Regions from separate parts of the Homo sapiens genome. Here region 1 is linked to region 2. A link means that fine-mapping ties the variant in region 2 to the expression of a gene that starts in the linked region. Tissue or cell type: iPS cells. Region 2 holds a variant in brackets; the other region holds the start of a gene. All regions are shown on one strand. Distances are between the middles of the regions.

Region 1 (8,000 bases), 190 kb after region 2:
TTGAATTTCTAAACTCACTCAAATTTCATAATTTGCAATTTTGGCCTGGGAATACTAAGCATAGTACTAATGAGAGACTGATCCTTTATTTATTTTGGAGAGGGGAAAGGTACAAATACATATGGAGAGGCTGAAGCCATCAGTTATTTCTACACTAGTATGCATTAGTTCCAATTCCTTTCTCCTAAGTTTGTCAAGCTTGAACTCTGTGAAGAAAGGGAAATTTTGTTAGATGGGGAAGTACTGGGAAATGCTGACACATATAATTACCTAAGGCTAAGCTGGGCCCTAAGGTTACGGACAGAATGATGGGAAAATACTTGTAGGGAGAAGAATAGGTATTCAAAGGGGATGGGAAGAATGATTAAGATAAACCTGGCCTAATTTTTGTGTTTAGTCCCCAAAGGTCTTAGGCCACAGAGCTCTTGCTCCCTGAGCTTTAAGTTCAACCAGATGGCACTGCAGTTACTGACATTCTGAGCTAGCTAGGTTTCTGAGAACCAGCCCACATCATTTCTAAGGCGCAAATGCCTCCAAAGTCTCAAAACACTAGATTTTAAAGCAAACCTTTGATGAGAGTTAACTGTGGTCTGGAACCACATCCTGATAGCTCCAAAGGGAGTTAGGACAAAAGAGAATGCCAAATACAGGTGCAGATCCGAGGTACCCCTCAACCCCTCTACAGACAGCCTATAGGTATTTAGGCCTGAAAGAAAGCAAGCCAGGCAGGATGCAGAGACACACGGCAGGCAAGTGCTGGGGCTTCCTCCTCCCCAATTCCTCTCACCAGCAGGAAAGAGGTAGCTGCACTCAACCCATTCCCAAAGGATATAAAAATCAATATTGGAAAAATGCAGCCCCATAAGAAAAAAAATAACAGAAACAACAAACACAAAATCTTACAGTAAACCTCCCCAGGTAACGTTCTCGTTTACTTAACAAAAATCACTTATTCACCACATACTGGTTGCCATCAGGAAGAGGTCAAACAAAAGAATGTCACATTGACGTTCAGCTCTCAATGCCACACAGCACCGGGTTCTTTGGCGAATAGGGTTCATCCTAACAGAGAGGCTGTGTGTGATATGCCACGCTCTCAAACAGTGACAGTTTACGAACAGTCAATGCTTTCATGCTATCATATAATGGAAAATGAAATTCCGTTGACCAGAGAAAAATAACCTTAAGAATGAATTCAGAAGGGCTTTTTACACTTGAACATGAACTACAAAATGATGCTAAATATGAACTCACCCTAGCACTGTCTTCCCTCCTATCATTTTGTGGGGTAGGGAGAAACAGGCCAGCTCTTAGAGATGACCTGCAATGCTACAAAAATAAGCTCAACCCAGGCTTCTGTCTTTCTTCAATATGGAATTTTTAAATCCTACGATATTAGCTGGAGAGGGGCAAAGGTAATGAACACATCCTATAATAAAAGTGAGAGGTTTTGTTCCATGCTCGTGATGTCCCCTGTCCTCACCTCTTAAATGGCATCTAGTTATGTGAGAACAGGGGGAGAAACTGCAACAGAGGTGCAGAATTCGTTGCCACTGGAGCAGCTCCAGTTCTCGCTGAGCATCTAGGCGGATTCTCTGGGAACTGCCGTTTCCATGTCATTTTATTTCACATGCTACAGTTTAGAATTTCTAAGGAGAAAGAGATCGTGCATCCGAACACTAAACCGGAATAAAAATGTACAGGAGATACTAAGAATAGGACAGAAACCTGCTAAGTCTAAAATATATAAACCCGCCATAGCCAACAAAATAAGGCTTCCAAGAAAAGGGGGTGGAGGTGCAAAAGAGCCGGCTTCCCCTAAAGGGCCTGGCTGCAAGAATCCCTCTTTGGCCACTAAACGGTTTTAGCAGAACCACAGATTCGTTCTGAGGGGGACAATTTGGATTCGGATTCAGCAAGAAGTAGAAAAGGTGCAGACGCGGCCAAGAACAGGGCTCCCTCTGCAAAGAATCCAAGCCCAAAGGAAACGCGGAAGGGATGGAGAAGAGAGACGCGGGAACGAGCAGGGAGTCTCTCCCGTCCTACACTGGCGACTCAAGGGGGCATCGGCAGTCGGTGGGAGGCAGAGTGTGGTCTCCCAGCAGAGGCAAGTGTGCTGACCTCCAGGCCAGTGTCAGTGGAGGGGAGCTCTGAAGGGTCTGCAGACGCGCCCTCCGGAAACATCAGGTTTCAGTGGCATCCATCCAGATGAGGTTGGTGGCCCAAATCCAAATGTCCCATTCCTCTGCCCCATCATGAGACGACGGGGCAGGGACCCACTGTGACCCGCGTCCGCGATTAGAATCGGGGACTGCCCGAGACCAGAGGCCGCCCGAGTCCCGGCTCGCTCCCCTCCTTGCGCCCTTCGCCGGGGCGGGCAGCCGGGCGGCCGCCGAGGGACATCTCGCGGCTACACCCGCAGAGGGAAGTTCTCCCAGGCAGCCGGCGGAGCCGCAGGGGACTACGGAAAGGAGGATGCAACGAGCCTGGGTCCCTCCGAGCTGAGTAGGGCCCGGAGTGGCCCAGAAGCGCTCGACTCCGAACGCAAAAAATGCCTCCCGCAAACTTTTCCCGTGGGCGCCGGAGGGCCTGGAGCTGGCGGAGAGGAGGGCGCGAGTCCAGGCGGGGTCGGCCTGAAGGCAGCTGGGGTCTGGGCTTCGAGGGAAGGAACCGCAGCCGAGGCGGTGCCGGCCGCAGAAGGTGGGGCTGCCGCTCTCGGCTAGCGGCGTTCTCGCCGGGAAGTCGGGGCTCCGCGCCCCCGCGCGCTCCGAGCCCCGCGCCTCGCCCAGCGCGGCCCGCGAGTGGGGAGAGGCGGGCCCCGAGCAGCCACCCCGGTCGCCGGCCGGGTCGGGCAGCTCGCGCTCACCTCGGTCCTCCAGCCCGTCGCTGAACTGGCCGCTCTCGCTGATCCGCACCTGCCGCTCCTCCTCCAGCTGGGGCGGCTCGCGCACCGGGGAGCTCAGCGGGGCCGGGCCGGGGGCGGCAGCCGGTGGCGCGTGGCCCCGGGGCGGCGGCGGGACGGTGGGCCCCTGGGAGCTGCGGCGCTGGATGCCCGCGGCCGGCTCCATGGCGCGGGGCTGCGGATCCCGGCGGCGGCGACGACAAGCGCGGCGGGGACTCGAGTCAGAAGTGCGAGGCGCCGCGGCTCTGGCGGGGGCAGGAGCGGACGGACTGGCCGCGTGGACAGGGAGGGAGGGCGGGCGGGCGCCGCGGAGTGGAGGTGCACGGGCGGGGGCGGGGACGAGCGGAGAGCCGCTCGGCTCCGCGGCCGGTGGCGGAGGCTGGGGCCGCGTTGTTGCCGCCGCGCTCCGCCCCTGGGGGCAGGTGCGGGCGGCAGGGACCCGCCCCAAGGCCCGGGCGCGGGAGCCGGCGCACCGAGGCGGACGAGAGGGAGGAACCAGCGTGAGGACCCACAGGCGGCCCTGGCAGAGCTTGGCTAGGGCGTAGCGGGGACCCGCCCCACCTGCGCCGCGGGATGGTGCCCAGAGGGGACCCCTCCCACTGGATTCCTCTGGGGTCCGCGAAGCCCGCGGCCGCGCGTGGGTAGCAGACAGCGCCCCTAATTTGGCATCTTTCTCTTCTGGAGCTGCACAGGCTTCAGAGGCTGTACAGGGTCTTCGCCTGGGCCTCCATTCTCACTGCTCATCCAGGGAAAAAGGGTTCATCTGTCCCCAAGCCCGTCGCTCTCCGTCCTTCTCGGAGCTTTAACTCCCCTCCCAGTTTCTCCCTGGAGCACCCATTTAGCCAGGGATGGGGTATCTTTAGGACAGCGGGCGCTATAGAAGATGCTTGAACTCCGAGGCTTCCCCATTTCGACTCTTCCTGGGCCTTTGTCCCATACAGTTCGCTCCCCTGCTCATCTAAGTCTTGTGTGATCTTCAGAAATCCATGGAAGCCTCCCTTCTACGAGAAGTCTCCCCTACTCTGACCCCTGCAGCTCTTAATTCATTTTGTGCGGTGGGGCTGATCTCACCAGTGAGAGTCCACCGCAGGGCACACGCCAGCTCTCTTGATGCCCAGAGAGGAGCAAAAGAGGACCTGCTGTTTAATAAATTCAGCTTGGATTTGTTGAGGCTCAGAAAAGTATACCCCAACGTATGGCACTTTGGTATGCTAAGTTTGAACTAAAAAACTAAACAGGCCTCTGAAGCCGCCTTAGAAACAAAGTCTGTCTCCCCCCCGACTTTCTCCCCACTAAGCAGTTCACAGAAACCAGAATTCCTCTTCCCTACGGTGGTCATACAACCTAGAAATAGTACTCCAACCTCCCTGGTCCTCTGCCTTTCTGTGTAGGAGCTGGCCATGAAGAAATACTCAGACCTACCTTGTCTGATAGTAGATCCTGAGACCCTCATTCCAGAAGAGGTCCTGCTCTATACATGCTGCACAGAGAGGCCAAGAAGAATCTGAACAGGCCTCGCTGGGTTCAACCCTCAGTCTATTACCATTAGATCACACCCTTTGTCCAATCACATTTCTATAAGGCTGTCCATTCTTCACTGAATCTAAGCATAAAAACAGGCAGTTTTCCCTGAGTCTTTGCATCTTCATTTCTGAAGGCTCCTGTATCACATAAAACTTTGATTCAATAAATTTGTTACGCTTTTCTCTTATTAGCCTATCTTTTGTTATAAGCATGTTTGCCGTGCCCCTTATGATGGGGAGGAAAGTATCACACCTTTTCTGCCCCTACCGTTTCAATGGTATCAACATCCAAGCTCTAGAGTCCGGCTTTCGTCTTTAGATTGATTCAGTCTCTGAATTTAATCCGGGTACTCCAAAATGTCAATTCCTCATTTAAAGGAGTCCTCCTCGTTTCTTGAAGAGTCACCCTTTTCCTTTTTCTTGTCTGCTTTGCTTGTGATTGAAATGAGAGTAGGATTTAAATGCCTTTGTGGTGCACTGGAAATATCACCAGAAATGGGGAGAGGGGTCTTACTTTATTTTGTTGCTGCTGTTATTATTGTTGTTGCTGGATTGGAATGAGAAGATCTGAGTTGACCTTGACCAACTTACTTTACCTTGTTGACCACTAATTTCTTCAACTACAAATTGAAAGAGTTGAACTACGTCATTTCAAAGATCCCTTCCTGCTGCAAAGAAAAAGAAAAATGCTATGATTACTTGGATAAAGACAATGAAAATCTCTACCCATTAATCCTGGTTCTATCCTCTAAGGTAGAACATCCTTCAGATATATTTGCAGAGTCATCTCCTCCACTTTTTTCCTCCAGTCTATCCCATTTAATCCCCCTGTCAATGGCTCTCAAAGTATCACCTGGGGAGTCTAAGAACAAAAATACCGAAGCTTCGACTGCTAGAGATTCTGATATCATATTTAACGTGATCGTTCTTGGCTGGGACCTTGGCATGGGTATTTTGTAAGGCACTTCCCCATTCTAAGAGTCATCTGGGGGCTTAAAAAAAATTGGCTGGGCGTGGTGGCTCACGCTTGTAATCCCAGCACTTTGGGAGGCCAAGGTGGGCAGATCACAAGGTCAGGAGATCGAGACCATCCTGGCTAACATGGTGAAACCCCGTCTCTACTAAAAATACAGAAAATTAGCCGGGCGTGGTGGCAGGTGCCTGTAGTCCCGGCTACTCAGGAGGCTGAGGCAGGAGAATGGCATGAACCCAGGAGGCGGAGCTTGCAGTGAGCTGAGATCATGCCACTGCACTCCAGCCTGGGCGACAGAGCGAGACTCCATCTCAAAAAAAAAAAATTATTCCTCCCTGGCTCTCTGAGATTCTGGTTCAATAGATCTGGGATCTGGCTGGGAACCTTCCTTTAAACCCCTCTTGCCCCCCGGCCTCCAACACACATTCTGATGTCAATTATTCTGCAACCACCCTTTATGATTACTCTCCACAATATGGACCATCTAGCTCTGTGCCCTTCACATACACACACACACGGTCTGCAGCAGATTCTCACCAAAGGAACTGGTATCATTATTCTTTCCTCTGGTTCCTCAGTTGGTTCTGTAAGTCCAGCACATCTCAAAGGTGAGCGTGGCAATGAACATCCGCAATTCTTCTTAAAATGCTGATTCTAATTTAGTTGGTCTGGGATAGAGGCTGTCAACCTAAAAGGAAGAGGCTGAGGCACAAAATATAATTGAAAGAATTTGCTTGAGCCCAAATGAGGACAGCTACCCAGGACGTTTCTAAGTTGCCTTGAGGAGTGCTCCATTAGCCTTTGTTATAAGCAGGTTTTTAAAGGCAAAGGGAACAAAGAGAGGGCCGATATAAAGTTGTGTGACAGGAATCCTCATTGGTTTGCAGAGATAACTTGGCTATAGATTGTTGAACTGTCGGGTAGGAGTTATGGTGTCCAGTGTATGGCCATTTTATGGCTATTTGGCATAAATTAGTCTAGAGCCCACATAGTCAGTGGCTTCTAGAGATCATTATTTCACTCAAATGGTTGTCACTTGCTGCTGTTTCATTCCAGTAAGTCTCTGGGGCTGATAATGTAAAGGGGCTTGCATTCCTCAGATTAAAAGTTTCTTTTTTTTGTTTGTTTTCCACCAGGCTGAGATGCTGTTTCTAACAAACCTCCCGATGCTGCTGATGCTGCATATCTGAAGACCACACTTTGAGAAGCAAGGATCTAGGAGTTGTTTGTTATTCATGGAATAAATATATTTCCCATCATGTTCCAGCTGCTCTGGTTAAACAAGCCACTATTGTCTTTTCCAGAAAGATTTCTCTGACTCCAGCTCCCCTTTGGGTGCTCCTTTTTCTAAACTGTAATTGATTAATAATTCACCATTTATTTCATGTGTGGAGCAGGGATAGTGGTGCTTGCCTGATGTGCATTCCTTACAAACACCTACCTGGGCATCGGGGACACAGTGTCCCCTCAAACAATCTCTGCTGATTAACTGGAAGATAACACTAGCTTACATTTTTGGAGGACATACCATGTGCCGGGTACCTAGCTAAGTGTTTTACATGCATTGTCTCCCTCATTCAGCTACTACTGTCCTCATTTCACAGATGAACAAACAAAGGCCGATCTGCCTTGTCGACCTCTGCCCACCACCATAATCCACAGGGGTACTGCCCGCTAGGGGGCATTTTGGAAATTTGCAGGTACTTTCATTGGTCATCACAATGATGGGAGGAGGGGGCCACTGACATTTAGTTGGGGGTGGCCCCAGATGCAGGAGATTGGTCTGTGTCCCACATGGCTTTCATTTGTCAGACCTGACCTTTGCTTCAGTTGAAATGTGCATCGAATTACGGTGGAACTTTAACTTTGTTTTACATATAAACACAAAATGTTTTTGCATCTTGTGAATACACACAGGAATTTCTGGAAATGCAACTACTGTATAAGTCTAGGAAGGGATGGTACTCTTTTTACCACTTTGGAAAATCAGGACACAGAAGCCAGTTCCATTCATGTTATCTGTTTCAGCAATCAACACATATATGATGCCCACAAGCCCAGTAATTTCATATGTGTATATTTCTTTAGTTCCTGTTTCAAAATAACAGCAATTTAAAGAAAAAGTGTAAAAAATATTCCAGAGTGCCTGACTCTCTGTTCTTAAATTATAAATAGGTACAAATATCTGACTGCTTATTTGTGACCTCTGGTGTAGCTCTGAGTGAGCATTTAAATATTAATTATGTATTACTTTATTTTATTCCTCCTCTATTATAATTTAGGTCATTATATTGATTTTTCAACTATGTGTATATGCATTAGCCATGAATTAATTTCATAATCACAATAGTGAATAATGTAAAACAGTTGGGGCCAGGCACAGTGGCTCACGCCTGTAATCCCAGCACTTTGGGAGGCCGAGGCAAAAGGATCACCTGAGGCTAGGAGTTTGAGACCAGCCTGGTCAACATGGTGAAACCTTGTCTTTACCAAAAATACAAAAATTAGCCAGGCCTGGTGGTGCACACCTGTAATCCCAGTTACTCGGGAGGCTGAGGCAGGAGAATTGCTTAACCTGGAAGGCAGAGGCTGCAGTGAGCCA
Region 2 (8,265 bases):
GGGTAACATGTGGACTGCCAGCTAACAGGAAGGCTTGTGAAGGAGCAATGGTGAACTCACAGAAAGGCCACCACAGCCTCTGTGCACACAAGGTGAACATCAACTTCGCTGAAGAGCATCCTATAATCCCAGGATCGGGGACATATCAGATGCAGAGCTGCACCTGCATAACCCCTCCTAGGAGGCAGGCACTGGGGAGACACTCTGCCTACACTATCTCCCACCACTCCTCATACCTGTCTGAGAAGACAGATATTTAAGCAGTCGAGGAAGACCAAGTTCAAAGGGTATGAGAAACATGTAAGGTTGCCAAGCTGAGATGTGGACTTGTCTGCCCATAAGGCTCAAAGCTTCCACTCCGGACACTCACCATCCTGTTTCTCATCTCCTTCTGTCCGTTTCTCCGAAGCATGCCCTGAGGCACCTGTTATACTGCCCCATCCTAGATCCGTGGAGAATTTCTAGCGGGGGTGGGCTTAGACTCAGGAGTCTTTATAAGCTCCACTGATGGCTCTAGAGCACCCAGAAGTCTAAGAACAGGACAGTCACTGTGACAGCCTTTGTCTGCCCAGGCACAATTACTGCCAGGCCAACTAGGGGCTTGTTTTCCACAAGAGGGAGAGACTGGCACTGCCCACTATCTGATTTCCCTCAAGAGGAAAGAAAGCAGCATAAAACACACTGGCTGAATTCATCACAGAGAAGGAATGCGTTTGAATTTGCTTCACTTTATTTGAGAGAAGCCAGCTGCTAAGAGAGCACCTAAAAGGTGAACTAAGCAGGTTAGTCCCAGAAACTAAGCCATCTTGGCACTGACAGCATCCGAAGTGCTAGCACTTTAAGGCCTGTGGATTCATGGACTGGATAATTTGCTCCCAAAAGTCCCACAACCAGAAATTAGGAGGGCACATTTGTAAATAACCCACAGTGCTTGTGTTAGAGGCCACAGATCCCATAGTGGCTTCACCAACTGTGGCATTTTGCCCACAACAGAAGCAGCCTTGTAAGGACAGGTAGCCAGCCACACAGGGCGAATGACTGTGGGAACAGTAAAGAGAAAAGTCATTTATTATTCCTGCCATGATTACTCCACTGGCATATCTAAGGCTCATCCCAATTTTCCCTACTGTTACAAGTACCCCATTTTTCTCTCATTTGTCTGCCCAATGATCTTGAATTAAAGTCACATGCTGATTTTAAACAAGGGGCGGGGGGAAAAAGATCGAATCCCTTGCATGTTGAAAGAAAAATGCCGTGTGGCTTTGAGCAGACGTTGTGATGCCTATTCCCCTCCTAATTACCAGCCTGCTGGCTTTCTGACAGATGGGATAGAACCACACCGCCTCATACAGCACTTATATAATGAGGTGCTGGTAATCACGACTCCACATTCAATCTGCTCCATTAATGCCAGAGGTGGTTCAACCAAATTAGAGAATTACGGTCTTACAGATAAGACTGAAACGTGTGTACACAGTAATTTTATTAACCATGAACATGCTTTGTGTAAAAAGGGCTTCCAGTTCAAAACAGTGAGAGAGACATGCAATTTGCAACCTTCACTGATTTAATAGCCTGGGAGTGGGTCTGCAGGTGGGGGTCGGAGCGTCTGTGTGCTATTACTGAACTGCGACAACACCACAGAATAAAAACATCACCAGCCAGTCAATTAAGGGAATTATTCATGAGCTTGTTAAAAGGTCACATGCCAAAAACTTCATGTAACAGGAAAGAGCTGAGGTGCGGTACTCAGTTGTTTTGTTGCTTTTAAAACTCAGAGATGATTGGAAATGAGGATAAGCCAAATTTCATTTAGAAAAAATGCTTAAAAAGCTATTACTGATGTCTTTCAAAATCCATTACTGAGAAAACCTAGAAAAGCACTCCTGTCTCTCCCCCAATCTCCCCTCAGCTGCTCCCTGCCACCATTACACCACGTTTCTCAGCAAAGGAGCTGATATCTAATTCATCTTGGTAGGAATTACTCTGATCGTGGTGAGGCCTCTTCCAGGCATTTAGGATCAGTCTAGAGGTAGACAAGTGGTTTTTCTCCTAGTCAAAGAAATAAAGTTTCCATTAAACAGAGAAACGGGAAGTGGGGAGGGGTCCTGAAACCCAGCCTTAGTAAGTAACACTACTCCAGTGGTTCTCACCTGAGGAGATTTTTACCCCCACTCCACCTCACTTCTCCCCCAACTCCCTCCCACAGGGGATACTTGGCACTTTCTGTAGACATTTTTGGTTGTCAAAACCAAGTGGGTGGAGTGTTGACAGCATCTAGTGGGTAGAGACCAGGGATGCTTTTAAACATTCTACAATACACAACAAATAATTATCCAGCCCAAAGTGTCCACAGAGCTGAGACTGAGAAACCCTGTTCTACTCCAATATTTTAGAGCCTTGCAACCCCAAGTGTGGTTCTTGGACCAGCAGCAGCGACATAACCCAGGATCTCAGAATCTCAGGACCTTCCCCAGACTTCCTGAACTACAGCCTGCATTTGAATAGCCCAGATTGATTTGTAATTGCATTAAAATGAGCTGCAGTCTTAGGACGATGGTTGTCAAAGTTGGTTACACACGAGAATTACCCAGGTGGCTTAACACTTGGGTCCCACACTCAGCCATAGAGGTGTAATTGGTCTGGGAAGCAGCCTAGGGGAAATGCAAGAGTTTTTGTTTTTTAATATCGATAACATTTAATGCTGTAATTGAGAGCTTGGGTTTTTAAAATTTTAAGTTCTGGGATACATGCGCAGGACGTGCAAGTTTGTTACATAGGTAACATGTGCCATGGTGGTTTGCTGCACCCATCAACACATCACCTAGGTATTAAGCCCCACATGCATTTGCTATTTATCCTGATGCCCTCCCCCTTTCACCCCCTACCCATAGGCCCCAGTGTGTGTTCTTCCCCTCCCTGTGTCCATGTGTTCTCACTGTTCAGCTCCCACTTATGAGAACATGTGGTGTTCGGCTTTGTTCCTATGTCAGTTTGCTGAGGATGATGGCTTCCAGTTCCATCCATGTCCCTGCAAAGGACATGATCTCATTCCTTTTTATGGCTGCGTAGTATTCCATGGTATATATGTACCACATTTTCTTTATCCAGTCTATCATTGATGGGCATTTGGGTTGATTCCATGTCTTTGCTATTGTGAATAGTGCTGCAATGAACATATACATGCATGTATGTTTATAATAGAATGATTTCTATTTCTTTGGGTATATACCCAGTAATGGGATTGCTGTGTCAAATGGTATTTCTGGTTCTAGGTCTTTGAGGAATCACCACATTGCCTTCCACAATGGTTGAACTAATCTACGTTCCTACCAACAGTGTAATAGCGTTCCTATTTCTCCACAGCCTCGCCAACATCTGTTGTTTCTTGACTTTTTAATAATCGCCATTCTGATTGGCGTCAGGTGGTATTTCATTGTGGTTTTAATTTAATGCAAGAGTTTGAAAAGCTCCCCAGGTGATTCCTGTGTGTAGTGAACTATAAGAATCACCGTCTTCAAAAGGATAAATTAGTGCTACTCAAAGTGTGGTTCCCCAGACTTGCAACATCTGCATCACCTGGGAGCTTGTTAGCAATGCAAATTCTCAGCTTCACTCCATCCCTCCTGATCAGAGACTCTGGGGTGGGCCTGGCAGCATGCCCCTTAACAAGCCCTCAGCAGATTCTGAGGCCCCTGGAGTCTGAGCAGCACCGCGTTAAATGATAAGACTTAGCTTCCTTGGAATTTCTGATCATTTGCAATTAGATTGTTGTGTTCTCCATCAGATGGGTATCACAATCGCCTCTAGATTAAAGAAGCCCCCATTTTGCAGGAATTCAACTACAAAATCAATCGCTGGGGAGCACTGGAAGGGCACTTGCCCCCTTTGTTGTGACATTATAAGTGTT[G/T]TGTGAAGATAGCGCCTAATGAAGTAGACATTTTGCTTTTGAGAATACCCTCTGGGCTAAGGGGACAAGTTTACTATAGTTTGGAACCACTCAATGGAACTTTGACCTCCAAGTTTGTGTTTAGGGAAGAACCCACTAAAAACAGAATCTGCCTCCTTCCCTGTCTAACACTCCCAAGACCAAGGTGGGCATTCCCTTCAGACAGCCTCAGAAGCCTGCCTCTGACACCTAGCTGGACCTGAGGGCATCTCTCCTGCATCAGTCTCCCAGACCTGGGGGTGTCCAGTAGTCCAGAAAAGCTTTCTAGAATGTTTCTGGGCAGTTGGGTTAAGATAAGTTAGGTGGAAGGCAACAAGGAGAACGGTTTGCAAATAAGAAGGCAGGGATGCTGCGGGCATTCACACAACAAATTTGTTCATCAGGCTGTTGGAAGGGATTTCAGCAGAGGGTATAGAGAACACAGCTGGAGAACTGGCTCAGGCCAGGCCTCGGGTGTGCCCCAGGTGTTGCTGCTTCTAGTGCCAACCATGGTGCTGGGCACTAGACCTTTCAGAGCTAGTGCAAAGCTAGATTTGCTCAGCACACAGTAGGTCCAAACACATGGTCACTTTTACCTTCGCATTTCACACTTGCTCTTGGGAAATCGATGGGAGAAGAAAAGGAGTTTTTCCTTCTTTTTAATAAAAGAAAAGGGAGCGTACACTTCAGGACACATTTAGCAGGACAACAGAATCTTATACAACCACCCAAGGTTAAGTAAAATATTTTAAGTAAACTAGTGTTCCACATCAGAAGTCTCTCAGACTATTAACCCCACAGAAGCCCCACCAAAATTCAACACAATTCCACATCCTACAGCACCACTAATAATTATCCCTAGACCCCCATAAATCGGAGAAGGTTTCACAGAAAAACCTACAAACCCTATCACCAAAAGAACACTTAACAATAAAGCATATGCCATTATGCATATAGTTTATGAGGCTTCCACATCAGAAGTCTCTCAAGAAGGGGCTGAATTAAAATCTCCTCCACAATTATGCTAGACAAATCAACTATGTGAAACTGAGCTTTTATGTAATTAATAAAGTCTCTCCAACTAGATTAGCTACTTCTAAAATCAGAGTGTAAGCTACTTTACACCCAGCAGGGAAAATAGCCCGGCAATGCAGTGCAGGCTGACAGGTCCTCTTACAGAACCACTGGAAAAGCATCATAAAAGTTCCATGTCTGCTTTTGCCCTAACTGGGCCATTATATTTTAAGAAGAACATGGTAAATGCTCATCCTCCAAGCCTTGTCTTTTACCAACCCCCTAAAAGTGTTCACTAAGAAAACCTAATAATGAAAACTTAAGTATGTCTAAAAAACAGCACGGTTCAGTATATGCTGTTCAAGACAGATAAACAGATGAAGTCTCCCATTATTTAGTCTAAGCTGTAACCACTCAACTAAGACCCTATAAAAATGCCTCACCACAAATAGTTTTCTAGGGAGTTATCAATTAATTCTGGTAATGAAATCTCCCATATTTCTCATTTTCTTTTTCATGATAACAGACTATTTGTCAGTCATGACTATTAGCTATAACTAGGATAAAATCTCATCTTCTTGGTGATTATATCATGTCTCTTCCATCTCCTTTCACTTGCCCTGACCCCTCTGCAAATCTATACAGTGTACATGCTTACATACGTGTATGCATCTATACATACATGCATATGTGTTTATGTGCATGCTTGTGTGTATATACACTTACTATAGAGAGAGAGAGGAAGGAAGGGAGGAAGGGGAGGAAACCTTAGAAAGTATATTATAAAGAAATTTTAGAAGTTTAAGAAAAAGAAAAACCTTCAGAAAAAAATACAACAAATCCTTAACATGTGCAAAAGACACTTGCCAAAAAAAACAGCCCCAGATCCCCAAATCCCGCTGCTATCGCTGAGGGTTGAGGAGTGAAGGGGAAGAGCAGCTGTGGCAGGAAATTGAAGGTCTAAGGGCTTTACAATTTCCAGAAAAGTATGTGACAGTGAGCCCAACACCACAGGGCTCTCCACTTCCCGCTCTCCCGGGATCCTGAGCAAGGCTATAGGAATGACTTGTCCTAGCCTTGGGAATCATTCCGGTCCTGGCTGAAACCACAAACACGGGCTGGGAAAATGACAGGATTGAGATGGGATGCCCATAAATAAATCACTGTAACAGCATGGAAAGCCCTCTGATGAGGTGATATTTAAGAGGAACATACGAAAATAATTAGCCAAAGACACAATCAAAAGAGTAGCGCCAACATGTATGTTAGATATAGGTCCAAAATGGGCTAAGTCTTGGAAAAAATATTTCCAAATGCCATTCAGAACAAAATTCTCAGGTTAACTACAACCCAAGAAGAATGGTCAATGTTTACATGAGACAAAAGACAGAATAGCACCACTTCTGGCCTGTCAACTGGGCAAGGAACAGAAAATAAAACTAATTAAGAGGACACAGAAGTCCAACAAGACAGAACGAAAAAGAAACACCTGGTCCTTCTAACACCATCCAGATCCTAAATCACATTATCCCAAATGGTGAAAGATCATTCCATGTTGTTATGGAAAAACTCCCAGTAGCCTTTTAAAAAATCAGGGCAAACAGGAAACTATTCTAGAAGTTGGGAAATGGGTCTTGGTGTTTGTAAGCAGATCTTAGAAATTCAAGACCGATGAAAGGCTTACTTCAATTATCAGATGGCTTACTTAACAGATTTAGTCTAACAATTCCAAAATGAAAAACATTTTGTTCAGCTCACCTAGGTTCACCAGGAATAAATCTAACTGGCCTAACTCCATTTCCTTTAGAGATGGCTTCCCTAACCTAGTAAACCAGGAGAATGCCTCAGATGATACATTTTGATTTTAACAAGGCATCTGATAAGAGTTTCTTATAACATTGTTATGAATGAGATAGAAAAGTTAGGGTATGGTGAGGTGAACTAAACTCTGGTTAGACAAACATTCTGGAAAATCTTGATCAGCCAAACAATTTGGAGTAACATCTCTAGGGTCAATTCTTAAGCCATTTGAAAAGTGAAAAAAAGTTGTAATGATACCACTTTGCCTCTTCAATTGTCCATTTTTAAAAATGAAAACAGCCAGTGCTGGTTGGAATACAAAGTGTCAATCTCAGTGGACAATTTAGTAATATGTCTCACACTTCTGATTAGAAATTGCATTTAAAGAAATATTCTTCCTAAGGAAATAATCAGACACAAGATTGTATAAAGCCCTTCACTGCTATGTTATAATAGGAGAAGAAAAACCATACTTGGGTATTTAAGGTGAATGGTTAATAACGGTGCATCAATAAGATGCAACATTGACACTTAAAAGGAAGTACATCAAGATTTTCAATAACAAAGAAATGCTCACTTTAGAAAGTGGGGGGAAAAGCAGGATGCACAACAGAACACGTACCATTAGCTCAGCTTTATAAAAATGTGTACCAACCCGGCCAGATGCTATGGCTCACACCTGTAATCCCAGCATTTGGGAAGCCAAGGCCAGTGGATTATTTGAGGCCAGGAGTTCAAGACCAGCCTGGCCAACATGGTGAAACCCCGTCTCTACTAAAAATAAAAAAATTAGCTGCGCCTGGTGGTGCATGTCTGTAATCCCAGCTACTCAGGAGGCTGAGACAGGAGGATCACTTGCGCCCATGAGGCAGAGGTTGCAGTGAGCTGAGATCACGCCACTATACTCCAGCCTGGGTGACAGAGTCTCGCTCTGTCTCAAAAACAAAAACAAAATGTATATAAACCTGCGCACATGCATAAAAGAAATGGAAAGAAAAAAATCTCCAAAAGCTAACCATTCTCTGGGTGGTAGGATGAGGGGTGACTCTTCATACATTAAATTGTCCAGTTTTTGGTCAGGCATGGTGGCTCACATCTGTAATTCAGCACTTTGGGGGGTCAAGGCAGGTGGAATGATCTGAGGTCAGGAGTTCAAGGCCAGCCTGGCCAACATGGAGAAACCCCTATCTCTACAAAAAAAAGTACAAAAATTGGCCGGGCATGGTGGTACACACCTGTAGTCCCAGCTACTTGGGAGGCTGAGGCAAGAGAATCACTTGAACCCAGGAGGCAGAGGCTGCAGTGAGCCAAGATCTCCCCGGCGATCACACTATTGTACTCTAGCCTAGGCGACACAGCAAGACCCTACCTCAAAAAAAAAAATTGTCCAGTTTTTAAATAATGAGTACATACTAATTTTAAAATCATGAAATGTTATTTAGACTATATGTATTTTTACAATTGGTTTTCAAAAACCATGAAAAGGAAAGTTTCGAGTAACCAAGCAGAAGCTGGAGGCGTGG

Which allele goes with the higher level. Positions count from the first base shown, and alleles are read on the strand shown. Sizes are in standard deviations (SD) of each study's normalised expression.
In carriers of allele G in region 2, the expression in iPS cells of the gene that starts at base 3,133 in region 1 tends to be lower than with T alone (large effect, 1.4 SD a copy in HipSci).

Evidence for each region. PIP is the estimated chance that this variant, and not a neighbour inherited with it, causes the effect.
Region 1: TMEM163 starts here. The variant in region 2 is fine-mapped to the expression of TMEM163 in iPS cells (HipSci, PIP 0.95).

What each region holds. Positions count from the first base shown.
Region 1 is chr2:134,715,868-134,723,867 of GRCh38, forward strand. It overlaps TMEM163 (transmembrane protein 163), which reads right to left and starts at 3,133. Exons shown (of 8, transcript NM_030923.5): 1 at 2,867-3,133. The coding sequence starts at 3,068. It overlaps LOC105373629 (a long non-coding RNA gene), which reads left to right and starts at 2,245. Exons shown (of 2, transcript XR_923354.4): 1 at 2,245-2,700; 2 at 6,535-6,657. RefSeq lists a silencer at 3,217-3,456 and an enhancer at 5,159-6,358.
Region 2 is chr2:134,521,651-134,529,915 of GRCh38, forward strand. All of the region lies in intron 4 of TMEM163 (transmembrane protein 163), which reads right to left. Among named protein-coding and RNA genes, the nearest start is that of TMEM163, 190 kb to the right of the region's middle. The variant G/T (reference allele first, on the strand shown) is at 3,911.